Homo sapiens: one gene and its partners. The protein of the gene in region 1 purifies or fractionates together with the protein of each later gene. This does not show direct contact. Each region holds a gene or a part of one and is shown in the gene's direction. Other genes may lie near its edges.

Evidence for each region.
Region 2: the proteins of KNG1 (region 1) and CAPN1 purify together in Homo sapiens (affinity purification with mass spectrometry; 4 studies listed by BioGRID and IntAct, with this or other methods). This does not show direct contact.
Region 3: the proteins of KNG1 (region 1) and CTSV purify together in Homo sapiens (affinity purification with mass spectrometry; 4 studies listed by BioGRID and IntAct, with this or other methods). This does not show direct contact.
Region 4: the proteins of KNG1 (region 1) and ANAPC1 purify together in Homo sapiens (affinity purification with mass spectrometry; 4 studies listed by BioGRID and IntAct, with this or other methods). This does not show direct contact.

The regions. Positions count from the first base shown.
Region 1 is NC_000003.12:186,734,071-186,741,723, forward strand, and holds part of KNG1 (kininogen-1 isoform 1 precursor), read left to right. Parts: intron 1-5,028; coding exon 5,029-5,136; intron 5,137-5,257; coding exon 5,258-5,344; intron 5,345-7,451; coding exon 7,452-7,653. UniProt on the Homo sapiens protein: Kininogens are inhibitors of thiol proteases.
Region 2 is NC_000011.10:65,198,445-65,206,097, forward strand, and holds part of CAPN1 (calpain-1 catalytic subunit), read left to right. Parts: intron 1-6,238; coding exon 6,239-6,414; intron 6,415-7,265; coding exon 7,266-7,277; intron 7,278-7,653. UniProt on the Homo sapiens protein: Calcium-regulated non-lysosomal thiol-protease which catalyzes limited proteolysis of substrates involved in cytoskeletal remodeling and signal transduction. Proteolytically cleaves CTBP1 at 'Asn-375', 'Gly-387' and 'His-409'.
Region 3 is NC_000009.12:97,035,957-97,043,451, reverse strand, and holds the start of CTSV (cathepsin L2 preproprotein), read left to right. Parts: upstream 1-4,309; 5' UTR 4,310-4,381; intron 4,382-5,398; 5' UTR 5,399-5,408; coding exon 5,409-5,534; intron 5,535-5,836; coding exon 5,837-5,959; intron 5,960-6,053; coding exon 6,054-6,200; intron 6,201-6,704; coding exon 6,705-6,929; intron 6,930-7,495. UniProt on the Homo sapiens protein: Cysteine protease. May have an important role in corneal physiology.
Region 4 is NC_000002.12:111,873,908-111,881,560, reverse strand, and holds part of ANAPC1 (anaphase-promoting complex subunit 1), read left to right. Parts: intron 1-711; 5' UTR 712-735; coding exon 736-948; exon of another isoform or gene 949-1,068; intron 1,069-2,589; coding exon 2,590-2,751; intron 2,752-7,653. UniProt on the Homo sapiens protein: Component of the anaphase promoting complex/cyclosome (APC/C), a cell cycle-regulated E3 ubiquitin ligase that controls progression through mitosis and the G1 phase of the cell cycle.

The DNA.
Region 1 (7,653 bases):
ATACAAGCTAAATAAAAATAATCAAAATAGAGCCAAATTGTTACAGCAAGCCAACATAATCCTCATAATCTGGTGAAAAAATTCTCACTAAAAAGTTCATACTTTTGGCTCAGAATTGAATTTCTAGGAATCTAAAGTAGGAGTCTTTATATACAATGATATTCACTGCAGTTTTAAGTATAACAGCAAAAATAGTAAACTGTCAAAATGATTAATATGAGAATGATTAGATCATGTCTGGCATATCCTCAGAATAGAGTGTTAAGCAGCAACTTAAAAGCATCTTTGTGCGGAGCTCTTGATATGGGGAATGTCTTGTGTTATAATATTCAGTGAAAAAAAGGAGGCATAAAATTGAATATACATGATGTTATCAGTTGTGTTATTTTAAAGTACAGAAAATAATGTGGGAAAAAAAAGTGGCTCACGCCTGTAATCCCAGCACTTTGGGAGGCCGAAGTGGGTGGATTGCTTGAGGTCAGGAGTTTGAGACCAGCCTGGGCAACATGGTGAAACCCCATCTATAATATTAGGTTGGTGCAAAAGTAGTTGTGGTTTTTGCCAAAGTAATGGCAAAATCACAATTACTTTTGCACCAACCTAATAAAAATTCCAAAATTAGCAGGGTGTAGTGGTGCACACCTTCAATCCCAGCTACTCAGGAGGCTAAGGCACAAGAATGGCTTGGACCCGGGAGGCGGAGGTTGCAGTGAGCCGAGATTGTGCCACTGCACTTCAGCCTGGGCGACAGAGTCAGACTCCACCTGGAAACAAACAAAAAAACGAATGCCTCATAGTCATAGTGGTGATTTTTAGGTGATGGAATAACACTACTTTAATCTTTCTAATTTTCTGTATTACTTTTGTAACTGAAAAAAAGTAAACAAACTAGATTAAAGTAAATCAAAACTGATACTTTGATCTCTCTGCTACTTGAGCACTTGTTTCTATCCCAGACACAACCACCCTCTCTCTCTGATTTCATTGCCATATGACCACGTTAGGTTTACTTGAAAGGGACGCCAATCTATGCTATTCATGCTTTTTTCAGCTTTAACTTCTCACTTTATATTTCTGCTTTCTTGTGAAATTATTTTATTCTTTTTTCGTTGTTGTTTTTTAAGAGAGACGCGGGCCAGACATGGTAGCTCATGCCTGTGATCCCAGTACTTTGGGAGGCAGAGACAGGAGGATCACTTGAGCCCAGGAGCGAGACCAGCTGGAGCAACATAGCAAGACCCTGTCTCTACAAAAAAAGAATTAAAGGCCAGGCGTGGTGGCTCATGCCTGTAATCCCAGCACTTTGGGAGGCCGAGGCAGGTGGATCACCTGAGGTCAGGAGTTCGAGACCAGCCTGACCAACATGGTGAAAAACCATCTCTACTAAAAATACAAAAATCAGCTGGGTGTGGTGGTGGGTGCCTATAATCCCAGCTACTCGGGAGGCTGAGGCAGGAGAATCACTTAAACTCGGGAGGCGGAGGTTGCAGTGAGCAAAGATCATGCCATTGCACTCCAGCCTGGGTGACAAGAGTGAAACTCCATCTCAAAAAATAATAAAAAAAAAAAAGAATTAAAAAATTAGCTGGGTATGGTGGTATGTGCTTGTAGTCCCAACTACTTTGGGAAGCTGAAGTAGGAGGATTGCTTGAGACTGGGAGGTCGAGACTGCAGTGAGCTGTGATCGTGCCACTGCACTCTAGCCTAGGTGATAGAACAAGACCCTTTGGGCAACAGAGCAAACAAAAAGAGAGAGAGATGGGGGTCTCACTATGATGCCCAGGCTGGACTCGAACTCCTGGGAGCAAGCAATGTGCCCATCTCAACCTCCCAAGTAGCTGGGATTACAGGCGCACACCAATGCACCCAGCTCCCTTATTCTTTATTCTGAATGTTGTAGGAATAGGCCACCATGTATTGTATGTCAGAGGTTTGCCATCAAAAACAGAACCACTCATTCTCAAGCATGAATATCTAGTCTTCTTAGTAGTTACAGTTTTCTCTGTGGATTAATGAATCAACATTCTAGTATGCATATGTGTCTACATTAAGGATGTCAGGGGGACACAAAGAGGTAACCCATCAGATAGCTGCCAAGTCAATCTGAATATTGCAAGAATTTCAAACTTACTTTAGAGAGATAAATCTTTACTAATTTTTGCATTTAAAGAGAGCAATTTGGTTGCTTGGACATAGTCACCCAAGGCAGCCTTGATGGAAGCAGCCAATTTACTGGAAATCAATTAAACATATGATGAATTTGCTAAAAGCTAGTCTCCAAAATGACCAATTTGCCAAATTGCTAAATATTTATAGTTTTAATCTTGCCTTGGGTTTGCACATTTAGTCCTGTTTGGATGCATGTTGATTCCACGTTGGGTTCATATTTCAGATATGAAACACTTCCTGAATCTTCCATTTTCACACATTAGTGATTACAGTTTCATATAAGTTTTATTTTGCCCTACCACCACTGCTGCTGTCCCCAAGGCTGTTGATGCTCCTGTCTGCCTCTGCTGAGATGAATAAACTTCCAAGATCTGTGTGTGCACATGCAGAAATTTTTCCTTTGACAAAGTCCTAGGAATGTCAAATAATATGTAGATATATAAGACTTGATGCAAATTGCCAGAATCACCAAATATTTGCAATGATGCCAATTTACATTCACATCACCTGGGTATAAGACACCAGTTGAGGCCAGGCGTGGTAGCTCATGCCTGTAATCCCAGCACTTTGGGGGGCCGAGGCGGGCGGATCACCTGAGGTCAGGAGTTTGGGACCAGCCCAGCCAACATGGTGAAACCTCATCTCTACAAAAAACACAAAAATTAGCCAGGTGTGGTGACACTTGCCCGTAATCTCAGCTACTTGGGGGCGCTGAGGCAGGAGAATCACTTGAATTTAGGAGGCGGAGGTTGCAGTGTGTGTCACTGCACTCCAGCCTGGGTGACAGAGTGAGACTCCGTCTCAAAAAATAAAAGAAAAAAGACACCAGTTGAGGATCTTAATTTGAATTCTCTTCCTACCAGCAGTGACTGAGGCTGCTTGATTCCTATGCCTGGCCAATGCCACGTATCATCAATTTTTGTTTTCATCTTTGCCTGCATGGAAGGCTAACAATGATGTCTCATTGCTTTTTTAATGTGCATGTTTTTGTTTATTAATGAAGTTAAACTTTTTTTTAGGCTTAATGACCGTTTTAACTTCTCTGAAATACCTGCTCATGGCTTTTGTCCATTTTTAGTGTTGGGCTTTATATTCATACAGACATTGATTCTATATCATAGTTTTCCCAGCTTGCCTTTCTACTTTGCTTATTGTGATTTTTCAGAAGCAGTTTTCATTTTTCTCTAGTCAAGTTTTAGTATTTTCCCCTTCCTTCAGATTTCTTTCCTCTGCTTTTCACCTAAGAAAGGCCTTCCTCATCCTGGGTTTTGGTGAATATTTATTTATTTGTTTAGTTGTTTTTTGTTTGTTTGTTTTTGTTTTGTTTTGTTTCCCGAAACAGAGTCTCACTCTGTCACCCAGGCTTGAGTGTAGTGGCGTGATCTTGGCTCACTGTAACCTCTGCCACCCAGGTTCAAGCGATTCTCCTGCCTCAGCCTCCCAAGTAGCCGGGATTAGAGATGCTTGCAACCATGTCCGGCTAATTTTTAGTATTTTTAATAGAGACAGGGATTCATTATATGTTAGCCAGGACGGTCTCGAACCCCTGACCTCAGGTGATCTGCCCGCCTCAGGCCCCCAAAGTGCTGGAATTACAGGCAGGAGCCACTATTCCCGGCCAACACATTTAAATACTATGATTTAATACTAAATAATTTGGTTGAGAAATTGGGCCACAAAATATTTAATGGAAGATAGTGTTGAGTAGTGATTAAAACTGTTGCTAGAGATTAAAATAATTTTTTTTTCTTTTTGAGACAGAGTCTCACTCTGTCACCCAGGCTGGAGTGCAGTGGCATGACCTCAGCTCACTGCAACCTCCGCCTCCTGGGTTCAGGTAACTCCCCTGCCTCAGCCTGTCAAATAGCTGTCAAATTACAGGTGTGCATCACAAAGCCCATCTAATTTTTATATTTTTAGTAGAGGTGGGGTTTCACCACGTTGGTCAGATTGGTCTTGAACAGCTGGCCTTAAGTGATCCACCCGCCTCAGCCTCCCAAAGTGCTGGAATTGCAGGCATGAACCACCACGCCCAGCCTAAAATAATTTCTTAATATTAAAAATAGTAAGAGAACAATAAAAACCCCAAATAATTTTTCTAATTACAAAATTTAATCCACATAATTTCTATAGTAGTACTAACTCAGTATTTCACCAATTCAAGATTTGGCAGGACAATAAGGCATATTTAAAAACATTTTAAGTTTTTCTTCCTATTCCTGTTAGATTATTAGATATTACAACTTGAGCCCTTGAATTACTAGTGAATTTAACAGCTGTTGGACAATAAAACTCAAATAAATACATAAATAAATAAAAATTATAGGCCAGGCATGGTGGCTCATGCCTGTAATCCCAGCACTTTGGGAGGCCGAGGCAGGTGGATCACCTGAGGTCGGGAGTTCGAGACCAGCCTGACCAACATGGAGAAACCCCATCTCTACTAAAAATATAAAATTAGCCAGGCGTGGAGGTGGGCAACTGTAATCCCAGCTACTCAGGAGGCTGAGGCAGGAGAATTGCTTGAATCCAGGAGGCGGAGGTTGTGGTGAGCCGAGATCGTGCCACTGCACTCCAGCCTGGGCAACAAGAGCGAAACTCCATCTCAAAAAAAAAAAATAAAGAAAATTATAGCTTGCTTATTTCTTCCCCCACTTAGAAAAGGAAATGGGACCAACCGATAGCCAAATATTTTAAATATGCATGCCAAGCTTTAATGCCAAACGTGTACTTTTTTGTATGTAACTCTCTAAGTTGGTCAATTAAAATTTCAAGATTCTCCCTTAACATTTCTTAAAGATAAATGATTTATTATGCAAATATTTTTAAGCGTTTACTTTGTACTAATTAATTTTTCAGGTGGTGGCTGGCAAGAAATATTTTATTGACTTCGTGGCCAGGGAAACCACATGTTCCAAGGAAAGTAATGAAGAGTTGACCGAAAGCTGTGAGACCAAAAAACTTGGCGTGAGTAGTCATGCACCTGTCTACTTTTTCACTGGAAGCCTATTTGATGTTTTTAGAATCATTTGTTTAAATGTCTCGTGAATAACACTGTCTCTCTTTCGACTTCTGTTTTCATGGATAGCAAAGCCTAGATTGCAACGCTGAAGTTTATGTGGTACCCTGGGAGAAAAAAATTTACCCTACTGTCAACTGTCAACCACTGGGAATGGTATGATTCTAATTACAGTCAGCGTGGGGTCAGTTCTGCTCATTCTGAAAATCCATATTTGGGGGCTGAAAATGAACCATTACTGAAATGAATTGGGGAGCTATCTTTTTTAAATGGGGAGTAACTCTCACACTTCTGTGCTGATCTCTGTTTAATGGCTAGAAAGAAGAGTAACAATCCTCCTGATCACTTCTCACACATTGTCAGTGTCTCAGTGAAGCTTCTATAGACTCTCTCCTAGTGCACTGCAGTCCTGCTGTGGGGGAGCAACATTGGCTATGCCAGGTGTACCTGAGGCCAGATACAGCACTCCACTGCATTCTGCTGACATGCAAGGACCATGTGAAAAATGCATGGCTGGGCGCGGTGGCTCACGCCTGTTATCCCAGCACTTTGGGAGGCTGAAGCAGGCAGATCACCTGAGGTCAGGAGTTTGAGACTAGCCTGGCCAACATGGTGAAACCCTGTCTCTACTGAAAATACAACAATTAGCTGGGTGTGGTGGCGCCTGTAATCCCAGCTACTCAGGGGGCTGAGGCAGGAGAATCCCTTGAACCCAGGAGGTGGAGGTTGCAGTGAGCCGAGATCCTGCCACTGCACTCCAGCCTGGGCAACAAAGAGCGAAACTTTGTCTCAAAAAAAAAAAAAGAAAAGAAAAATTCAGACTCGCAAACCCCACTTCACAGCTACCGAATTTTAACCAGATCCCCAGGGGATTCATATGCATGAATCAAGTTTGAAAAGCATTCGTTGATGTCATCTTTCTTTTTTAAGTCTTAAAAGAACTCTGGGAGGTAGTAACACTTTCCCTATTGTCAAGGATGAGACACTAAAAATTAGAAAGACTCTGAGGTCCTGAGTGAATAATGACATTATCAAATGCTTCCTCTGTCCCAGGCACTATACTGAAGGTTTCACCCACATTTTCGAGTCCTCCTTATAACTCTGTGAGGCAGGTGCTGTTATTATTTCTATTTTACAGAAAGGAAAAGTGAAGCTGATGGCACTTGGATTCAAATCTTGGTCAATTCAGAGTCTACCCTTTCCATCACGATGCTGATTACCAGTAGGGTCTGGCCGGACTCCAATGACCATGTTCTTTGCATCACCAGACACTGCTTCCAATTAACACATTCTCACAGGTAGCAAAAGTGTAGGTAGAATTAATCCACAGATCGACATATTTGAAGCAGGTTACCTCTTTTCCCTCTTTTCTGATTTGGTCTTTTGTCATGTGTAGGTATGTAGATGGTGTAACACAAACATTGTCCTCAGGTTGCATTTCAAGCTTGCGAATATGTCCTAATGTGCTTCAGCACAACAAAGTGATCATGGATACATGCTCCCTATATATTCAGTTCATAAAGCCACTTAGGGCCTTTTAGGATAAAAGCAGTGATGGTGGTAATAACAGTAGTATCAATAATTAAATACTGTGCTCAGTAAAAACATAGGCTCAGAAGCTACCCTAGAGATTAGCTAGTTCAACCATCCAGATGAAGCAAAAACACTCCAGCTTATTTTACAGTTTTTTTTGTTGTTGTTTGGCTGGGTTTTTTTGTTTTTTTTTTGTTGTTGTTGTTGTTTGTTTTTTGTTTTTTTTGACAGAGTCACTGTCGCCTAGGCTGGAGTGCAGTGGCGCCATCTCAGCTCACTGCAACCTCCACGTCCTGGGTTCAAGCAATTCTCCTGCCTCAGCCTCCTGAGTAGCTGGGATTACAGGCATGTGCCACCATGCCCAGCTAATTTTTGTATTTTTAGTAGAGATGGGGTTTCAGCATGTTGGCCAGGCTGGTCTCAAACTCCTGACCTCAAGTGATCTGCTCGCCTTGGTCTCCCAAAGTGCTGAGATTACAGGTGTGAGCCACCATGCCTGGCTATTTTATGGTATTATTAACAACAATAATTAATGTCCACAAATTTTAAGATCAATCAAAAGACAAAAAAAATTATTCATCCTTTCTGGAATGTTAATATAGCATTTAAAATCTGGCAAACACCTCCCCCATTGTAAACTAAGATAACATTGCCAGATCTCAGTGTTTTTTTCTATCATCAATAGCATGATTTTTGCAGTAATACATTCATCTTAATATTTTCTGTTTAGATCTCACTGATGAAAAGGCCTCCAGGTTTTTCACCTTTCCGATCATCACGAATAGGGGAAATAAAAGAAGAAACAACTGTAAGTCCACCCCACACTTCCATGGCACCTGCACAAGATGAAGAGCGGGATTCAGGAAAAGAACAAGGGCATACTCGTAGACATGACTGGGGCCATGAAAAACAAAGAAAACATAATCTTGGCC
Region 2 (7,653 bases), on another chromosome or scaffold:
CCTAATCAATGACTTTACCCTCCTCGTGAACAATGCATAAACCTTAGAAATTCAGCTTGAATCACCCCTTTCCTTTGTATATTATGCTATGGTGGGCTAGTATTTTAATTCTAAAGTTTTTTTTTCCTGCCATAATTTAAACATCATCATGATTTGAGATAGCCCATGTTATTTGGATTACCCACAAATAAAAGTATTTTTGTTCAGCATTCTCAGACCTTTCATCTGAGATCATTTTCCATCCACCCGAAACATATCCTTTTGTATTTCCTTTGTTTTGTTTTCTTTTTGAGCAGGCTTGATCTCCTGGTCTCAGGTGAGCCTCCCACCTCAGTGTCTCAAGTAGCTAGGACTACAGGCACATGCCACCATGCCCAGATAATTTTTTTTGGGAGGGTTGGGGGGCAGTTGACGGAGTCGCGCTCTGTCGCCCAGGCTGGAGTGCAGTGGCGCGATCTCCACTCACCGCAACCTCTGCCTCCCAAGTTCAAGCGATTCTTCTTCCTCAGCCTCCCAAGTAGCTGGGATTCTAGGTGTGCACCACCACATCCAGCTAATTTTTGTATTTTTAGTAGAGATGGGGTTTCACCATGTTGACCAGGCTAGTCTCGAACACCTGGCCTCAAGTGATCCACCCTCCTCAGCCTCCCAAAGTGCTGAGATTACAGGCATGAAGTACCACACCTGGCCCTTTTTGTATTTGTATTTTTATTTTTTAGCAAGGGTCTGTTGGTTATAAACTTTCTCAGTGTTTGTCTAAAATGCCTTTATAGTGTGCTTATTCTTGACAGTTCTCTGGATATAGAATTCTGGCTTGACATTATTTTCAGCCTCTCAAAGACACTATTAGTCCTGTTCTGCTTCCATCATTGCTATGTGAGCCAGGAGTCTGTCTACCTTGCCTTCTGGAAAAAATCTTAATTTTTTTTTTCTTTCATACTATACGATTCACCATGATGTGTGGAGGTATGGATTTCTTTTCATTCTGCCTTGAATGTATTGAACTTCCTGGCTATGAATTGATACCTTTCAACAATTCTAGAAAATTTGTAGTCATGATCTTTGAGAATATCACCTCCTTCCCACTCTCTGTATATTCTAATAAAATCTAAACTGGACCTTCTCACTCAATCCTCTCTTTCTCTTAACCTTGCTTTTAGATTTCCCATCTCTTAGTGTCTCTGGATTGCATTCTGGGTTGTTCCTTCAGCTCCTTTCTCAGTTCACTAATTTTCTTTTTTGCTCTGTCAAATCTGTTAGTTATTTCTTCCAAGAACTTAATTTCAATTTTAAAAATTTTGTTTCTAGAAGATGTAATGGATCTTTTCAAATCTGTTCATTTTTGCTCAAATTTTCAAACTTTTCATCTATTTCTTTAAACATAGTAAGCATAGTCTTATATTCTGTGTCTGATAAGGTCAATATCTGAAGTCTTAGTGGTCAGTTTTTGTCCACTGTGGCTGCTGCTCAGTTATCACGCCTTGTTTGCTTGTGAGATCTCTGCCCCGTGAGAGAGTTCTTTGAGTCCTCAGATAAAGTTAAATTGCTCCGGGGTGTTTCTGCTAGTCACCTGGAATGCCACCAATCCAGAACACCTTTTTCGTTCTTTTTTATTTATTTACTTATTTTTTGAGACACAGTCTTGCTCCGGCTGGAGTGCAATGGCATAACCTCAGCTCACTTCAGCCTCGACCTCCCAGGCTCAAGGAATCCTTCCACCTCAGCCTTCCCAGTAGCTGGGACTACAGGCACACACCACCATGCCCAGCTAATTTTTGTAGAGATGGGGTTTTACCACCTCGCCCAGGCTAGTTTTGAGCTCCAGGACTCATGCGATCTGTCTGCTTCAGCCTCCCAAAGTGCTAGGATTACAGGCGTGAGTCTGAGTCACCATACCCAGCTTTGTTCTTTTTTTTTGGAGATGGACTCTCACTCTGTCGCCCAGGCTGGAGTGCAATGGTGTGATCTCGGCTCACTGCAACCTCTGCTCCCCAGGTTTAAGCAATTCTCTGCCTCAGCCTCCTGAGTAGCTGGGATTACAGGCGTGTGCCACTATGTCTGACTAATTTTTTGTATTTTTAGTAGAGACAGGGTTTCACCATCTTGGCCAGGCTGGTCTTGAACTCCTGACCTCGTGATCCACCCACCTTGGTCTCCCAAAGTGCTGGGATTACAGGTGTGAGCCACCGTGCCCGGCCGCCTTGTTCTTTTTTTGAGACAGTGTCTCATTCTGTCACCCAGGTTGGAGTGCAGTGGTGCAATCATAGCTCACTGCAGCCTCAGCCTTCTGGGCTCAAACTATCCTCCCAAGTAGCTGGGACTATGATAGAGACACACACCACACGCCCAGCTAACTTCTTACATTTTTTGGAGAGATGGGGTCTTGCTAGGTTGGCTAGGCTGGTGTTGAACTCCTGGGCTCAAGTGATCCTCCCACCTCAGCCTCCTGATTTACCTGGGACTACAGATCCATGCCACCATGCCTGGCTTTTTTTTTTTTTTTTTTTTTTTTTTTTTTGAGACGGAGTCTGGCTCTGTCACCCAGGCTGGAGTGCAGTGGCGCAATCTCAGCTCACTGCAAGCTCCTTCTCCCGGGTTCGTGCCATTCTCCTGCCTCAGCCTCCCCAGTAGCTGGGACTACAGGTGCCCACCACCACGCCCGGGTAATTTTTTGTGTTTTTAGTAGAGATGGGGTTTCACCATGTTAGCCAGGATGGTCTTGATCTCCTGACCTCATGATCCGCCCATCTTGGCCTCCCAAAGTGCTGAGATTACAGGTGTGAGCCACCACGCCTGGTCGTCTGGCTCATTTTCTTACTTTTTGTAGTGATGGGGTCTCCCTATGTTGCCCAGGCTGGTCTTGAACTCCTGGGCTCAAGCAGTCCTCCCACCTCGGTCTCCCAAAACACTGGGATTACAGTCCATCAGCCACTGTGCCTGGTGCAGGACGCTTTTAAGACTAAATTATCTTCTTAAGGTTTCACAGGCAGTGTGAATTAAAACTGAAAGGTCATGTGAAGCCTGGCTTGAGGTTATTTTTTCCTTCCCTCCAGGGAGGTTTAATTTTCTTTCTTTCTTTTTTTTTGTTTTTGAGACGGAGTCTCGCTCTGTCGCCCAGGCTTGAGTGCAGTGGCGCGATCTCGGCTCACTGCAAGCTCCGCCTCCCAGGTTCATGCCATTCTCCTGCCTCAGCCTCCCGAGTAGCTGGGACTACAGGCACCTGCCACCACGCCCGGCTAATTTTTTTGTATTTTTAGTAGAGACGGGGTTTCACCGTGTTAGCCAGGATGGTCTCGATCTCCTGACCTCGTGATCCGCCCGTCTCGGCCTCCCAAAGTGCTGGGATTACAGGCGTGAGCCACCGCGCCCGGCTTTTGTTTTTGTTTTTTTTTTTTTGAGACACGGTCTTGGTCTGTTGCCCAGGCTGGAGTGCAGTGGCATGATCTTGGCTCACTGCAACCTCCACCTCCCGGGTTCAAGCGATTTTCCTGCCTCATCCTCCCGAGTAAGTGGGACTACAGGTGCCCACCACCATGCCTGGCTAATTTCTGTATTTTTTCAGTAGAGAATGGGTTTTACCATGTTGGCCAGGCTGGTCTCAAACTCCTGACCTCAAATGATCCACCCGCCTCGGCCTCCCACAGTGCTGGGATTACAGGCGTGAGCCACTGCGCCCAGCCTAATTTTCTTTCATACTTCATTGCTGACATTCCTGACGGGGGTTCCAGTTTAATTGCAGGAACTTCCTGTTGGATTCTCTACCTCAGGTAGATGTTTATCATCTGCTTCTATACCCTGGGGTTCAGGGGTCTACAGAAGCCCTTTAGCATTATTTACCTTGCAGGGTTCCTACTTTCTATTTTTTAAAAATATCTTTATTGATACTTAATTCACATACCATACAAGTCACCTATTTAAAGTTGCAATTTAAATATACTATTAAATATACAATTTAAATGTACTGAAGTATATTACGATTTTATTTATTTATTTATTTGTTTGTTTGTTTGTTTATTGAGATGGAGTCTCGCTCTGTCACCCAGGCTGGAGTGCAGTGGCCAGATCTCGGCTCACTGCAACCTCTGTCTCCTGGGTTCACGCAATTCTCCTACCTCAGCCTTCCAGGTAGCTGGGATTACAGGCACCTGCCACCATGGCCACCTAATTTTTGCATTTTTAGTACAGACGGGGTTTCACCACGTTGGCCAGGCTGGTCTCAAACTCCTGACCTTAGGTGATCCAGCTGCCTCAGCCTCCCAAAGTGCTGGGATTACAGGTGTGAGCCACTGCACCTGGCCATATATTACGATTTAAATATACTATTAAATATACAATTTAAATATACTATTTAAAGTATATTCACAGAGTTGTGCAACCATCACCACATCAATTTTAGAACATTTCATTATCCCAAAAACAAATGAGGTACTCCTTAGCCATGACTCCCCAGCCCTCCCAGCAGCCCTGGCAACCACAAATCTACTTCTTATCTCTATGGATTTGCCTACTGGGATATTTCATGTGAACAGGATCATATAATACATGGTCCTTTGTGGCTGGCCTTTTTCATTTAGCATAATGTTTGCAAGGTTCCTCCATGTTGTAGCATGGATCAGAATGTTGTTCCTCTTTGTTGCCAAATAATATCCCATTGTTTGGCTCCATATTTTGTATATTCACTCTTCAGTTGATGGATAATTGGGTAGTTTCATCCACTCAGCTGTTATAAATAATGCAGCCATTAACATTCTCTCTTTTTTTTTTTAAATGGAATCTTGCTCTCTTGCCCAGGCTGGAGTGCAGTGGCACGATCTCGGCTCACTGCTACCTCTGCCTCTGGGTTCAAGCGATTCTCCTACCTCAGCCTCCTGAGTAGCTGGGATTACAGGCATGTGCCACCACGCCCAGCTAGTTTTGTGGGTTGTTTGTTTTTGAAACTGAATCTTACTCTGTCGCCCAGGCTGGAGTGCTGTGGCACGATCTCAGCTCACTGCAACCTCCGCCTCCCAGGTTTAAGCGATTCTCCTGCCTCAGCCTCCCAAGTAGCTGGGACTACAGGCATGGGCCACCATGCCCAGCTAATTTTTGTATTTTTAGTAGAGGTGGAGTTTCACCATATTGTCCAGGCTGGTCTCAAAACTCCTGACCTCAAGTGATCCGTCTGCCTGGGCCTCCCAAAGCGCTGGGATTACAGGTGTGAGCCACCGCGCCCTGCCACACTCTTATGAACAAGGCTTTGCATGGACACGTTTTCATTTCTCTTGGGTATAGAGCTTGGAGTGGAATTTCTGGGTCATATGAAGCTCTGTGTTTAACCTTTTGAGAAAGTGCCAGAATGTTCTTCGGAGCAGCTGCAACATTTTACATTCCCACCGGCATCCTGTGAGGTTCCCATCCCTCCACATCCTCACCCAAGTTGTTATTATCTTTATTATTATTATTATTATTGTCAATGGAGGGCAGGGGATGCAGTGGCTTATTAGTGCCTTTAAAAATAAGTTTTGCAGTTTACCGTTCTATCCCGCACTGGGTTGTTTTAGTCAAGAAGGTTCTTTAGGCAGCAAAATCACCCAACTGCCAGAAATGCAAGCCCCTGCCTTCCCTTGCTGGCTGGCTGTGGCCTCCTGTCGGACCCCTGCTTTTTCTCTTGCCTTCTTCTAAGCTGTTGTCCACGCAGCACTCGAGCCACCTTTTAGAGTCCTAATGCAGTCACATGCCTCCTCGCTGCAAGCTGTGGGAGGGTTCTTACCCTTTGCTTCAGTCCACACGCCCTAGTCCCTGGCCGGCTCCTGGGAGCTCTGCGGCCTCCCTGGGTCTCCGTGTTTCCTAGAGCCTCCGTAAGTGCTCCCTGTCCGCAGATGCGTGGGGCCCTTCCTCACCTCTGCTCTGGGGTGCCCTCCGCCTGGCTTCTGCTTCTCAGCAGCTTCCCAGGGCAGCCCCTTCGGGTCTCAGCGCATAGGTCCCCTACTCTGATCTACTCCTGCTTGCTTTTTTTTGCAGTTGCTCTGCTCGCTAACCTAACGGACTTGCTCAGACTTAAGCCTCTAGTTTCCAAATGCAGGCCGTGAGGGCATGGACCGAGCCTGGCCCAGCCTGCCCATCACCCTGCATGTTCCAGGTGCTCAATAATATTTGTTGAATGAATGAATGCGTGCACAGGGACGTGCTGAGGAGGCTTGGGGGCCAATTGGCTCTGCCCCGCCCTGCCTCTGATCCCCGCCTCCTCACCTGCCCGCAGCCACCTTCTGGGTGAACCCTCAGTTCAAGATCCGGCTGGATGAGACGGATGACCCGGACGACTACGGGGACCGCGAGTCAGGCTGCAGCTTCGTGCTCGCCCTTATGCAGAAGCACCGTCGCCGCGAGCGCCGCTTCGGCCGCGACATGGAGACTATTGGCTTCGCGGTCTACGAGGTCAGGAGGGTGGATCACCGGTGGATCTCACTGAGCAGGCAGAGGACCTGGCGCCCCCGACCCGCAGTGCAGGCGGGCTTCCACCAGGGGGCGCCAGGGACCATGCCCTTCCCCACAAATTCCCCTCCACTCCCCCCACCATCCTGAGGGCTGGGAAATCTCAGCCTCCAGGAGGCACCTGCTGAGGCCCTCTGGCCGAAAGAGAGGAAGGGGGTTGGCTCAGGGAAGGGAGATTCTGGGATTCACCTCACGCTTAGAGGGCGGCCTGCTGCTCTTGGAGGAGGGAGCTGGCTCAGCTGATGCCTGGGAGTACTGAGCCCTCCGTCTTGGAAGCTGTGAGCAGAAGCTGGCAGGGGAAAGATAGGGGATAGGGAGGGCCTGTCGGCCAAGGTGAGGCTGTGCCAGTCGCTCTGGGATTAGAACTCCTTGCTCTTGCCCTGTATCTGCCCTGCTTCACACACTGCCCTCAAGACAGGGAGAGAAACTTCTGGACCTCCCTGGTCGCAGTCTTGGCCCACACCCAAACCCCCTGGCAGCAGCCTGCGGTGGCCCTTTCCTGTCCCTGGGCTTTGGAACATTGCAGTTGGCCACCCCGGGGGCTGGCCTGGAGCCTCTGACTCAGAATGGAGTCCTAGGGCAAGCATTCCCAGGACCAAGAGGACCCTGCCTGAGCCCTCCCTCCTGGGGCCCTGCTGTGGTGCAGGGACCAGATCTGGGTCCCCAGGGCCCTGCCTTCTGCCTCCTTATCCCATCAGTCCCGTCTAAGAACTCAAGACCTCTGCCCAGCATGCACTGTGACCCCGCCCTGGGACAAACACACATCTCTGACTTCCCCTGTCTCTCTATTGCAGGTCCCTCCGGAGGTAGGTGTGGCACCATGACCCACCTGCAGTCACACACCCCTGATGGTGCCAGAGGGGAGCAACCCAGTGGCAAACCCACCCTGGCCTGGAGAGCTAAGAAGTCACCTTGTTTCACTGCTTGAAAAATGCTTCTCCCCACCTGTTCAGTGGGCAGAGCAAACATTGCTCTCCTGAGGGTCAGCACAGGTAGTCAGTGAGGGAGCTGGATTTGAGCCCTGGTCCTCAGAGCCCCTGTCTGACATGTACACATGAGGCTTTTCCTGCCTTGCCATCTACACCAAGTAAGTGCCAACTAGGGCGGTCCAGCAATGTCAGGAGCAGGGCATTAGACAGGCTGAGAGTTCTGTACCCTTGAGCAGTTGCTTAAGCTCCGAGC
Region 3 (7,495 bases), on another chromosome or scaffold:
AAGAGCTGAATTCTCATTGATTGATTTACGTGCTTGATGAATTGGCTGATAGTTTAACTCTACAGGAAAAGCACAGTTACAGTAACCAAGAAAAGTAGTTATTTCATAAGTGGTTTTATATGAACCTCAAATCATAAACAGGCTGTTTGCTATACGATTATCAATGGTGACAAACCATTTTGCAAGTGGACAGTTTGCTGGATAATGCTTCTTAAGAGTAATTCTTGGCTCAGTGAATTTAAACAAATCGGAGGGGGTTATTATACTGGGGAGAGGTGTTAAGTGATGTCAGGGTCTTGAATGCCACCACACTAAGTTTGCCAGTTCCCCTATGGTTTAAAATTTCCGGAGACTGGGTAAAGAATCACATCCTCTTTTATTTATTTATTTATTTTTGAGACAGAGTCTCACTCTGTTGCCCAGGCTAGAGTGCAATGGCGCAATCTCGGCTCACTGCAACCTCCACCTCTCCGCGATTCTCCTGCCTCAGCCTCCCAAGTAGCTGGGACTACAGGCATGCACCACCACACCTGCCTAACTTTTTTTGTATTTTTAGTAGAGACAGGGTTTCACTATGTTGGCCAGGCTTGTTTCAAACTCCTGACCTCAAGTAATCCACCCACTTCAGCCTCCCAAAGTGCTAGGATTACAGACGTGAGCCACCATGGCTGGCCTATATCCTCTTTTAATAGTGAGTAAAAGAAAGCTACACAGATGCACGTGAGAATATACTTTCACAGGCACTGCGTTTTAAATAGGAATCAGGAAGTTCTGCCAACTCCATTTTATTAAAGGCATAACCAAGGCTTGGTTGCTTCACTAACATGTGACTGTTCTAAAAATTATCACTCATCAAAATTATTTTGCAAAGAAATAGGAATAGAAGAGTAGGGAAAGAAACAAATATTTAAATACAACTGTCCTGGCTAGTAATACCACATTTCTGTAATGCATTTTTTTACAGATGTGTATAAATAGATATAAATAGGTGTCCTAAGTTGGAGCAATAACGTCTTCCACCCTCTTGCTTATTGGCTTTCTCCCATATTTCTTCTGCATTTACATATTTCTGGTATAATTTTAGATTTGGGGCACACTTGGTTTGAAAAGGGTCTATGTTTTCTCCACTACTTTTGTCTCACATTCCAAAAAACAAAGGGGATGCCATTCTTCAGGGCAGCACCTGCCACTCATCTGCTGTCAGGCTATTGCTTAAGGCACAGATCTTAATGGCCTGGCAGGTTTCTCCACCCTACAATCTTAGGGAGCTGTGGCCCAAGGGCAACTGTAAAACCCACGTGTTAGAATAACTTAGCTTTCTTGTGATAGACTGAGTAAACAAATAGACAATGGCCATAGTATATGGCAATAGAACTCTGACCCACAGAAGAAATGAAGCATAATATCTGCAGAGACCAACTCAGAACAGTCAGGACTTACTCAGTGGCTGACAGCTTCCTCATTTTTGCCTCTGCTTCCAACCCAGGACAAACCAGAAAAACCAAATATACTCCACAAACAAATCACATAAGACGCTCCATCTCTAGTTATCCCTCCTTCAGCTTCTCCATGACGACACTCTGCAAAGAGGACATAGCTGAAGTTGCCCCCTTTTTCCCCTAAAGCTTTTCTTCTCCCTCGTCTTTGAATTATCTCCTTTGTTATAGCAAGTTCTGAATATATGGCCTCTGTTTGTTCTTAGGTGGTGGTCTTCATTTATTTCCACATGTGAATGATGATTGTGTTCAACACAATGATTAATTTTTAAAAAAGAAAAAAAACAGCTATTTGCAGTACAAGATGCTTTTTTTTTTTTTTTGAGACGGCAAATTTGCAGTACAAGTACAAGATGCTTTTTTTTTTTTTTTTTTTTTTTTGGGACGGCATCTCGCTCTGTCACCCAGGTTGGAGTGCAGTGGCGCATGCTCTGCTCCGCTCACTACAACCTCAGTCTCCCAAGTAGTTGGGACTACAGGCATGCATCACCATGCCTGGCTAATTTTTGTTTGTTTGTTTTGTATTTTTGGTAGAGGTGTGATTTCGCCATGTTGCCCAGGCTGGTCTCAAACTCCCAGGCTCAGGAGATCCACCTACCTTGGCCTGCAATACAATATACTTTTGTATTTTTTATATAACCACCTGACAGCTTTGGCCCCTAGTTGTATTTGAGAGGGAAAAGCTGCTATTTATTTAAAGGAAGGACATATAATTATTAATAAATTGATTTTTAAAAAGATGTATTTGCCTGATGGTGCTTCTGAAAAGTTGTCAGTTTAATTGTTTTTAATTTGTTAAAAGAAAATCCATAGCCAAATTAAATTTAAGAGAATTTAATTGAGCAAAAAACAATTCGTGAATCTGGCAGCCTCCAGTGCCAGAGTAGGCTCAGAGAGACTCCAGTGCAGCCACATGGGGGAAGATTTATAGACAGAAAAGGGCAAGTGAGGCACAGAAACTGCAGGATTGGATACAGCTCCATGTTTGCCTTATTTGAACATGGTTTGAACAACTGAACCTCTTTGATTTACAGAAATTCGGGGATAGGCACAAGAGCAGGCTACAGTCTGTTTACACCTCCATTTAGATTACAATTCGCTATGTACAGAGAAACCTTTAGGCCAAACTTAAATCACATGGGGAGGCAGCTTTAGGCTAAACTTGATTTCACAAATTTTCAAATTAACAAGTAAAAACTGTGGATATTATTCAATTTAATCTTTAAGAGTTTATTAATCAATATGCATTATAACTTCATTTTTGTAAAAACAAAAAAAGATATGCCTAGAAAAGGGTTATGGAGAGGGCACAAGGGACGTTTATTTTCTAAAACATATTTTTTATAATGGATTTTTTTATATAACTTTAAAAAGAATTAGAAACGTTTCTGAATTATTAATGATTTCCTTAAATCTTTAGCTACATATATTTCTCCATAAAGAGCAGTTCCTCAAACTGCATCACCTCAACCCTGATATTATATATTTTTATTTTTATTTTTATTTTTTGAGACAGAGTTTCGCTCTGTCACCAGTCTGGAGTGCAGTGGCACGATCTCAGCTCACTGCAACCTCCGCCTCTCGGGTTCAAGCAATTCTCCTGCCTCAGCCTCCTGAGTAGCTGGGACTACAGGCGCCCGCCACCACGCCCAGCTAATTTTTGCATTTTTAGTAGAGACAGGGTTTCACCATGTTGGCCAGGATGGTCTCGATATCATGACCTCGTGATCCGCCCGCCTCGGCCTCCCAAAGTGCTGGGATTACAGGTGTAAGCCACCGCGCCCGGCCGGTATTAAACATTTTTAAAGTAAATTTATTAAATCTCAAAAGAAGCACACTTTGAATACTGAGGAAGAGACGTTGTAACCCATAAGCAGAGAGTAGGTAAGTAAAAGCAATTTCCACCACTCTCAGACTGGGCGTAGTGGCTCACGCCTGTAATCCCACCACTTTTGGGAGGCTGAGAGGGGAGGATCGCTTGAGGCCAGGAATTCAAGAGCAGCCTAAGGAAACTTAGCCAAACTCCATTTCTACAAAAGAAAAATTTTTAAAGCAATTTATTTCACCATTCTCAACGCTTTTCTCTTTTTTATTAACCAAATATTTCTGTAACTCTTTTTTTTTTTTTTTTTTTTTTTTTTGGTATTGAAAGACATGGGAGAAGGAAGAATTCCTGAATGCAACAGACTGGGAAGGACGCACCACAAAACGCTCCGCGGTCTCTGGACACCCTATCAGCTAGTCCCGTCCCTCCTGGTGTCCGGTCTCGACCATCCATCCCGTGTTTTGGGAGTGCCTTTCCTTACCAGATTCTTCTAAAGCCCTGATGCACCCACCCTTAAGTGGAAGGTAATGCTTCTGCTGGGGGCTGTGCGTTCTTCCACTCCGTCCCACCTTTGCCGTGGACTAAACAGGAGCCACTGAACGAGAGTACCCTGGCTCCCGGCCCTGCAGATTTTCACCAAAAACTCTAGGACTAAGTTAAAGTAGGGACTGAAATACCACACAGAGCTCGCTGTAAACCACCCGCTCAGCGCAGTAAGTCGGGATAGTCAGTAGATCTGAGCCCTTGAGGGAGGCGCCTCCCCCTCCTCCGCGCAGCCCCCGGGCGCCCGGCCCAGCTTCCCGCAGCCAGGGTGTATTGAGGTAGGCGCGCCCAGACCTGAGACGGGTTGGGACTGGGCTGCGTCACGCGCGGGCTCTAAGCGCCCGGGGCCCCGCCCAGTGGCCGGCACAGCCAATCGCAGCGCGGGAAGGCGGTGGGGGCGGGGAAGGCCGCCTGGAAACTTAAATCCCGAGGCGGGCGAACCTGCACCAGACCGCGGACGTCTGTAATCTCAGAGGCTTGTTTGCTGAGGGTGCCTGCGCAGCTGCGACGGCTGCTGGTGAGCGCCCCCGACCAGACCGAGGGACAGGGCGAAGGGGGACTGGAGGAGGGAACCCCCCTTTAGGGACACTGAGAGGAGGCGGGCGCTTCTGGGAGTGAGAGCTTCTGCCCGGAGCTCTGCCAGCCTCGAGGTGGGGAACGGGGGAGGGCGGTTGGAGACCCCAGGGAGGCGCCGGCACCACTGGGAGGGCCCGGGCGGGGCAGGTCAGTCATCCTGTGGGCTGAAGCCGGACCGGACCGGGCGGCTTCATGCCCCCAGCCTGGCCGCGGAGCCCCCGCTCCCTGCACCGCCGCAAACATTCTCGGGGCGCGGCGGCGCGTGCAGAGGGCGAGAGCAGGCGGTGCGGCCCCGGTCCTGGCCCGCCCGGAGCTCCGGGAGCTGCCTGCCTCGGTCCGGGCCCTGGCCCTGGGGCCCCTGGCTTCCAGCGGCGCGGCCTTGTGACCCTGCCCCGGTTTAGGGGAGCGAGTAGCACAGACCCAAGTGTGGGACGGCGGGAATAGTGGGTGCTCTCCTTCCCAGTGTCTCCTGGAAAGGGATTCCCGAAAGGTTTTATTCCAAAAGGAGAGGTTGGAAGACATAGCTCATCTCCTGCTGTGTATCAGCCAAGAAGGTGTGAGGTGGTGTTCCTTGGGGATCCGCTTGCATCTACTTGGGATGGTACGTCTTCATTAGTGAGGTTTTGCCTGGATGACCTCAGTACAATTGGTGCAAAACCTGGACCAACTCTTTCCTAGTTTTCTAGTTGTTGCCTTAAGCTTCTCACCCGTCAGGTATCTTTCACACCCTTCTCATACCCTAAATTATCGCATATGCTGTTTCAACGCCTCCAACTCTGCAGGCTGCTTTTAATTTTGGTGGGCCCATCAAATACCTCCACTTGGCCTGTTTCAGCCTCTTCCACAGTCCTTGGGGAAATGCTAGGGAGAATAATTGAAATATTTCTATTCCACGGGGGCTGTAAGATGGCTTTTTAGGATTGGTCTAATCAGATACTCATTTCTTTTCTCTTTCTAGGTTTTGAAACATGAATCTTTCGCTCGTCCTGGCTGCCTTTTGCTTGGGAATAGCCTCCGCTGTTCCAAAATTTGACCAAAATTTGGATACAAAGTGGTACCAGTGGAAGGCAACACACAGAAGATTATATGGCGCGGTTGGTAACATCTGAAACTGTCCAGAGGGACTCTGGAGAGAATGGTCCTCGCTGTTGGGAGTTGATAGCCAGAGAGTAGCTTCTAGACACCAGACCTTACCAGGCAATAACCTAACAGCACCCATTATAGGTGCAATATGGGCATATATCTCCATTGTGTCTTGGCTTGGAGAACAGCTCCCAGAGAAGTATCAACCCATCCCTGGCCATGGTTTCTCTTCCATTTCTGCCCGCAAATCGGCTTGGTGAACATGGGTTGGGTAAGTAGACATAAAGTCCACCAGCTATATGTTTGCCTCTAGAATGAAGAAGGATGGAGGAGAGCAGTGTGGGAAAAGAATATGAAAATGATTGAACTGCACAATGGGGAATACAGCCAAGGGAAACATGGCTTCACAATGGCCATGAATGCTTTTGGTGACATGGTGAGTGTGGCAAGGATTGCTGAACTCTGTGCTGCTTCTCAGTTCTTCACCAAAATAGTCTTGCTTTTAACATTTTATTTACTTCTCCTTGAAGACCAATGAAGAATTCAGGCAGATGATGGGTTGCTTTCGAAACCAGAAATTCAGGAAGGGGAAAGTGTTCCGTGAGCCTCTGTTTCTTGATCTTCCCAAATCTGTGGATTGGAGAAAGAAAGGCTACGTGACGCCAGTGAAGAATCAGGTGAGACAGCGTCAGATTCAGACCCTGTCTCCACAGGAAAGCCAAGAAGGAATTGGTGTCATTGCTGTGGTAGATGGTGGCACAACATATGGTGATGGGTTTTTTGTATTTTTGGTTTTTGGTGTTTTTTTTGTTTGCTTGTTTGAGACGGAGTTTAGCTCTTGTTGCCCAGGCTGGATTGCAATGGCGTGATCTCGTCTCACTGCAACCTCTGCCTCCTGGGTTCAAGAGATTCTCCTGCCTCCACCTCCCGAGTAGCTGGGATTGCAAGTGCTCACCACCATGCCCAGCTAATTTTTGTGTATTTTTAGTAGCGACAGGGTTTCACCATGTTGGCCAGGCGGATTTCAAACTCCTCTCCTCAAGTGATCTGCCCGCCTCGGCCTCCCAAAGTGTGGCGATGGGTTTTTTTTTTTTTTAAAGAATATTAAGGTAATTCAATTATGGGGTACTGTATTTGTATTGGTCTTGTAAATTTACAGCTTTTTTTTTCTCCCTTTTTAGAAACAGTGTGGTTCTTGTTGGGCTTTTAGTGCGACTGGTGCTCTTGAAGGACAGATGTTCCGGAAAACTGGGAAACTTGTCTCACTGAGCGAGCAGAATCTGGTGGACTGTTCGCGTCCTCAAGGCAATCAGGGCTGCAATGGTGGCTTCATGGCTAGGGCCTTCCAGTATGTCAAGGAGAACGGAGGCCTGGACTCTGAGGAATCCTATCCATATGTAGCAGTGGTAAATGGAGCTCCTTATCTTGTCATTCGTGCTCTGCTTTTGGAAAGTGGAACACTTTCAGAGATAACAGATACTTTTTTCAGAATTCACATTTTATATGGTAGAATCTACATCTGCAAACCGTGAGTATTGTCATTATAAATTATTAGCCTTTGGCCAGGCGTGGTGGATCACCTGTAATCCCAGCAGTTTGGGAGGCCGAGACAGGCGGATCACGAGGTCAGGAGATCAAGACAATCCTGGCTAACACAGTGAAACCCCGTCTCTACTAAAAATACAAAAAAATTAGCCCGGCCTGGTGGCGGGTGCCCGTAGTCCCAGCTACTCAGGAGACTGAGGCAGGAGAATGACGTGAACCCGGGAGGCGGAGCTTGCAGTGAGCCAAGATCGCACCACTACACTCCAGCCTGGGCCGCAGAGCGAGACTCCATCTCAAAAAAAAAAAAAAATTATTAGCCTTTGCACAGTTCTCTGGTGAGATGGTCAACAGCTAATGGTTACCATATAAGTACCATTAGATGGTTAACACACAGCTGTTCTTGCTTTTACATAACATGGAGAATAAG
Region 4 (7,653 bases), on another chromosome or scaffold:
ATTAATAATTAGATTAATTAGATGTAATAATTAATTAAAACCTAGTACCCTTAAATCTGCAAGCATAACTGTTCCATGGCTAGAGTTATTCATGCCTCGGTTCTTTGGGTTTCGACCAATAATTGAAATTGATTGTAGTTATATATTTAGGTGGGATTGGGGGTGTCACAGCTACTTAAGACATTTGAAAACCTATGTCTTTTGTAGATTGGTCAGCTGAAAGCAGTTCAACCTCTGATGAATTAGAGTAATGTGTGGTTTTTTATTGTTTTATTCCAATATGACAATGATCCCTTAGATGTACTTTTCAAATGAGGTTCTGGCATCTAACCAGAAATGACCTTAAATGTTGAAAAGCCATGTAGTTATGGGACCATAGAATACAACTTGTCTAAATACTTCATATATAAAGTATGGAAAAATTAGCGTATAGTAGTGGGAAACACGGGATAGGTGGTGCGGGACATAAGTACTTGTTGCATCTCAGTGGTTTCCTATAGTGGTAACTGTCAGTCTGTGACTAAAATGTGATAATTGCAACTGTCTGAATCAGATCTAGAATGCCCTTTTATGTTATGACCAACTTATATACTTACCAGTCTGATATAATTACTTGACACCCATGTAAGGATTAATGACTTGTGTGTTTATGGTATTTTTATTCTAGTTTTGAGTCTGGAAGCTGACCAGAATGTGTTTGAATTCATACAGAAATAATGTTGATATTTGGAACCCATGTCGAACTTCTATGAAGAAAGGACAACGATGATTGCAGCAAGGGATTTGCAGGAATTTGTTCCTTTTGGTCGAGACCACTGCAAGCACCACCCTAATGCTTTGAACCTTCAACTTCGCCAGCTGCAGCCAGCTTCTGAATTATGGTCTTCTGATGGTGCTGCTGGCTTGGTGGGATCCCTTCAGGAGGTTACAATCCACGAGAAACAGAAGGTTCCATTGAGTTTCCCATTGTGTTTTTGAAATGTAGAGTGATATAATCTACTTGTAATTTAAGGCTACTAAGATGCAACTGAGAGATCGGTGTGATGCCACTTCTAGAGTAGAGTTAAGGTGTGGTAATTTCAATAAATGTTGAAAATAATGACTTTATTACATTGTCATAGCGACTTATTTAGATACCCTCTATAACTTGTGGTTTTATTTATTTTTTATTTTTCAATTTTTTTGTTTGAGATGAAGTTTTGCTCTTTTTGCCCGGGCTGGAGTGCACTGGTGCGATCTTGGCTCACCGCAACCTCTGCCTCCCGGGTTCAAGTGATTCTCCTGCTTCAGCCTCCCGAGTAGCTGGGATTACAGGCATGCACCACCACCCCTACTAATTTTGTATTTTTAGTAGTGATGGGGTTTCTCCATGTTGGTCAGGCTGATCTTGAACTCCGGACCTCAGGTGATCCACCCGCCTCGGCCTCCCAAAGTGCTGCGTTTACAGGCGTGAGCCACTGTGCCCGGCCAACTTGTGGTGTTATAATGTGAGTCAGGTTCAGTAGTATGATTGTTGTCCATTTTAAACCTTTTTCTTTTCACTTAATATGTGGGGACCAGATTTCATGTTATCTAATGATTAAATGGTAGAGATTAGAAGTAGTCCCTGCTGCAGAAGATTTACATGTTTCTAAAGGAGAGAAGAAATGCCACAAAAGTAGGTAGAGTAATAGCTTTTTTTTTTTCCTGAGACGGAGTTTCACTTTTGTTGCCCAGGCTGGAGTGCAATGGCACAATCTCAGCTCACCGCAACCTCTGCCTCCTGGATTCAAGTGATTCTCCTGCCTCAGCCTCCCGAGTAGCTGAGATTACAGGCATGTGCCACCACGCCCAGCTAATTTTGTATTTTTTTAGTAGAGGCGGGATTTCTCCATGTTGGTCAGGCTAGTCTCAAACTCCAGACCTCAGGTGATCCACCTGCCACGGCTTCCCAAAGTGCTGGGATTACAGGCGTGAGCCACCACACCCGGCGAGTAATAGTTCTTAAGTAGAGGAATGAGATGTTAAGTGTGTGTCAGAAAATGAATCCCTCCTGCCTTATTCCATTGTCATATCCCTTTGGGATACTAAAATCTCGGGGAGGGAAAGCCTATGTAGTTACAAATGGAAACTTCTCTTTCTTCCATTCATTTTGGTGGGTGGGACAAAGGAAAAGAAGGTGAATATATATGTGATTGCGAAGCAGGAAGTCTGCATTTGTGTGTGAACTCCCCAAGTGATTCCCACGTGCACCTCACTGTCCTTTCCCTACCCTACCTCATATACTTAATATGTCCTTTTAGTCTCCCAAGCATGTGATTTGACTTTTGGAACTATAGAGAAGGTGTACTTTTTGTTCGTTTTTGTTTTTGGCAGAGTAATATAGAGGAATAATATAAAACATTCAATATAGAGAATTATTGAGTAAATTCTTCATGTAATTCTGTAGTGTAATGCATATATCCACATCCTCCGTTAATCAGTGTACCAAACTTTGTAGGAGTTGTGTTTGAATTGAGTCTTACTCCATGGGCAAATAAATTTTGTTCCAGATTTTTGAAGAACAAAAAAAGAGTGCTTGAATATGTTTTACATGTGTTAATTTTTAAGGAAAGCTGGCAGTTAAGGAAAGGAGTAAGTGAAATTGGAGAAGATGTGGACTATGATGAGGAACTCTATGTTGCTGGAAATATGGTGATATGGAGCAAAGGAAGTAAAAGCCAGGCATTGGCAGTTTATAAAGCATTTACAGTTGACAGTCCTGTTCAGCAGGTGAGTTGATTTGAATTTTAGCATTTGATTCACTATTTAATGCAATTAAAAAAAAGTTTTGTTTTAAAATTTAACAGAAATGATAAAACCAGCCTAATGATCTCAGCAGCTGGGTGTACGTTGTAACATGACATAATATAATGTGAAGATAATGGCAGGAAAATAAAAATTTAATTTTATTTTTATATCATCACTTTTTTTACACTCTTCTTTGTCACTTTAATGGTAATCTTTAAACACTCTGTCCTTATGTAATTCAATTTGTTATTGCCAGCAAAAACCTATAAAACATGAAGAGTACAGAAATATTTTAACACATGATTACTATAATTGATTGCAAAGATTTGAATAAATAAAAATCGTGGGATTCATAATGGTAGAGAGAAAGGAAAAAATCTGCTTTGCAGCCATTGCAGTTGGCTGTTATAACTAACTGTTCTGAAAGTTGATAATGAAAGGGAAAGAATTAAGCATTTGCCATATTTTTTCAGGAAGACATGCAGTTCATCTCCATTTGATGAAGGAAAACTTGTACTTAGAGAAGAATGCTAGCTAATAAGTGTAAAAGGAATTGTAGAATTAGAATATCACCATTTTGTAACCTCCAGTGCAATAATTGATTCCAACAAGGATTGTAAATGGATACTAACACTGTTGGTTGAAAGAATATTACCATGGCACCAACACATCACCCTGTGGATTACCTGGTAAATGTGAAGGAACAAATGTACCTCTACTTTGGAGTTATTTGTCAGTCTCCACCTCAATCAAGTGATTGAGTTTAGCATAATTAGTAGTGACATGAAGGAGTATTATGTGCTTCTAGCTATAATACAGAATGAAGTACATGATGTCATCTAAGTTTTCTTCCCAAAAATATGAATATTTAGACCTAACTTCCTATTTATAGGAAATATAGGCAATAGAGAATTATATTTTAAAATACCATGAGATAAGGAAATAGATAGCTAGGAATGGCTAAAGCTTTATTATTATTATTATTGTTTATTTATTTATTTGTTTTTTGAGATGGAGTCTTGCTCTGTCACCCAGGCTGGAGTGCAGTGGCATGATCTCAGCTCACTGCAAGCTCTGCCTCCCAGGTTCATGCCATTCTCCCGCCTCACCCTCCCGAGTAGCTGGGACTGCAGTTGCCCGCCACCACACCCGGCTAATTTTGTTTTTATATTTTTAGTAGAGCTGGGGTTTCACTGTGTTAGCCAGGATGGTCTCGATCTCCTGACCTTGTGATCTACCCACCCACCTCGGCCTCCCAAAGTGCTGGGATTACAGGCGTGAGCCATCATGCCCAGCCAAGCTTGATAATTATTAAAACTGGCTGATGGGGATTCATTATCCTATTCTGTTTACTTTGTATTTATTTGAAATTTTCCATTATAAAAAGTTTATAGTCTACATTCTGGTTTCTTTAAAAAAGTCACGGAGAAAGAAAAAAAGGTGGGGACTGTTCTACATTGAAAGAGACTAAAGAGACATCACCAAATGCAGTATTTTTTGATCCTTGTTAAATGAACTTTGATTGAGTCCTGGTTTTCTAGCTAAAAAGATATTTTTGGGGAAAATTTGGGAAAGTTGAAAATTACTGGCCAGTAGCTGATGTTAGAGAAGTATTATTTTTTTCTCAGGGACGATGATTTTATGGTTTTATAGGAGAACATCTTTATTTTTAGAAAAGGCATGGTGAAGTATTTAGGGGTGAAATGTCATGATGTGTGTGCAATTTATTTTTAAACAGTCAGCATTCCCATTCCGAAAATCCCATATGTACACAAATGCACACACACAAACAAATATGGCAAAATTTTCATGATTGTTGGATATAGGTGAAATATGTTTGCTGCATTATTTCAACTTTTCTTACTGAAAATTTTTATAACAAAAAGTTGGAGGAAGAACTAATGCATTTATTGTAGTTGAATTAGGGTTGACGAGGTTTTGGAGGCTTTGACTAATGTTAAGTTTCATTTTTGTAAATGCTGAAATCTTTGTATCTGGATACTGCTTCCTCCCACTCCTCCCGCCTACCGTTAACTATTTCCTGATGAGTACTGTATTCTATTTATTGGAAAGGATAAACTGAATCATTATTCCAACATTTGAGGGCATATGTGAAAGCATTTGTGTCCTGGAGTGTTGAAGCCAGTGATCTTTTTGATGGTAAATTTTTTCCCATATAATTCATATAGTTAGTATAGATGTGAAAAGTGCATTTGATGATATCCAAGTAGTTCTTTGCTTCTATATCTTCATCTTAATTTCTCCAAGAACAGTTGCCTATTTACTAGATTCTATGGAAGTGCAGTTAGATATATTATCTCCTTTATCTTAAGATCACTTGTAAGTGTAATTGTAAGATTTGGAATTTCAGTCTTTTGATCTGGAAAATATATTGTTACTTAATCTTCTTGCTAATATGGAGAAAGATAATTTTCTATTTTGTTTATGAAATAATATCAGGTATATGTGACTCAGATTTTATCTGTTCATTGTTTTACCTATCCTGCAAGTATTTTTTTTTTGGTTGTTCTTTTTATTTTTTCATTTATTCTTTTTGTTTTTTAATAGAGATGGGGGTCTCACTATGTTGTCCAGGCTGGTCTTGAACCCCTGGGCTCTAGTGATCCTCCTGGCTTGGCCTCCTAAAGTGTTGAGATTACAGGCGTGAGCCACTGTGCCTGGTCTTCTGCAAGTATTTAGTCTCACTCTGTTTCAGCCATTATGCTGGGGCTACAAAGGTGAATGTAGTTTCTGCCATTGAAGGACTCATAGCCTAGAAAGGAGAACAAACAGATCACCTGAAATGCTGTATTCTGAATGCTGTATAATAACTACCTGTCCACAGAGTGATGAGAGCCCAAAGGACTGAGTGCCAAAGGGAGGGTTTTTCAAAGAAGATGCTATTTGTGTTATAAAATGGTGGCAGAAGGGCATTCTAGGCAGAGGAAATCACAGCAAAAAGAATTATGGAAAAAGATGACTTTTTAAACTTCAGAATGGCTGTACACGAAGTGTGGGTGTGGAGAGATGCAAGTGGATGCTGGCAGTATACAGACCAAAGGGCCTTGTATATAAACCAAGGAATTTGGATTTTAAACTGTGTGCTGAAGGGAGCCTGCCAAGGATTTTAAAATGGAAGCGATCAATTTTGTGTTTTGAGAAGAGATTGCTTTGTTAGCAATATATATATAGGATTGACTGGAGAGGAGGGAGACTGTTGTCAGGGGCACTATTTTGTGACTGTTCAGGTAAAAGATTGGTGCCTTGGCAAAGAAGGGGTGATAAAGCAGAGGGAGATGTGGAAGGGGTTAGTGATCTCTTAGATATCAGGGATAAAAGAGATGTTAAAATATTTACTTTTAGAGGCTGAGAGGATGGGATTTCATCAAAGGAAGTTGAGACTGTAATCGGTGCATTGTAGATTTTGGACATTTCAGGTTGGAGCACAGCTCTCATGCATGGTTTTCTTCCTGAATTTTCATTTCTTAACCATTAAAATCTCCCACAACTCAACAATAAAACAAACTACCCAATTAAAAAATTGGGCAGAAGGACTTAAATGGACATTTTTCTAAAGATGCACACATGGTCAGTAAGCACATGAAAAGATGCTCAGCTTCGCTAATCATTAGGCAAATGCAGATTACAACCACAATGAGATACCACTTTACTAGGTTGGCTGTTATTAAAGAAACATAACAAATGTTGGTGAGGATGTCCAGAAATTGGAACTCCTGTGCATTGCTGATGGGAATGTAACATAGCTGCTGTGGAAAAGTTTGGCGATTTCTCAAAAAGTTACACGTGTAGCCAGGCATGGTGGTGCATGCCTGTACTCCCAAGCTGTTCAGGAGACTGAGGCAGGGGGGTCATGTGAACCCAGGAGTTCTAGGCTGCTGCGAGCTAGAATCATGCCTTGCATTGCAGTTTGGGTGACAGAGTGAGACCCCATCTCTTGAAAGAAAAGTTATACTTAGAATTACCATTATGATCCAGCAGTTCCAGTTCTAGGTATATGCACAATTGAATTGAGAACAGGGATTCACAGATACTTGTACACCAGTGTTTTCAGCAGCATTATTTATGATAGCCAAAAGGTAGAAACAACCCATGTCCATTGACAGATGAATGGATAAACAAATGTGGTATATGCTAACAGTGGAATATTGTTTAGCTTTAAAAAGGGATAAAATTCTGATACATGTCATAACATGGATGAACCTTGAAAACATTATGTTAAGTGAAATAAAATAGATATAAAAGGACAAATGTACAGTTTCACTTACATGAGATACCTAGCACAGGCCCTTTCATAGGGAAAGTGGAATAGAGGTTACCAGAGCTCAGGGCATTGGGAAATGGGGAGTATTGTTTAATGGGCACGGAGTTTCTGTTTGAGATGAGGAAAAAGTTCTGGAAATGTGCAGTATTGTACAAGCTCACAAATTGTACTAAGCTCGTCAATTTAATGTTAATGCTACTGAATTGTCTACTTAAAAATTGTTAAAATGTTAATTTTCATATTGTGTGTATTTGACCACAGTTTAAAAAAAAACACAAAATGCTGTTAAATAATAAGTGATTGCCAGGTATGTCAGTTAAAGTTTAATAGCTTTTCCTAGTTTATATTTTGTAAGATGGGCTTTTAAGAAAGGGAGGAGTTAGTTTTTCTAAAGACTTTTTCAAAAGTCAGTCTAGAGAGAGTCTAAGATCAGTTGTTTAATCTGGAGATTATAAAGTTTGAATAATCTTTAGTTTTGTAGAGGATATAGGGTTTAGTATGGTTTGAGCTACTATTTGAATTTTTGCTGCAAAGTTTCTATCTGGTAGATTTTTTGATTCTTGTCTTCTCTTTTTGTAAAATTTATTTTTTTAATTTAAAAT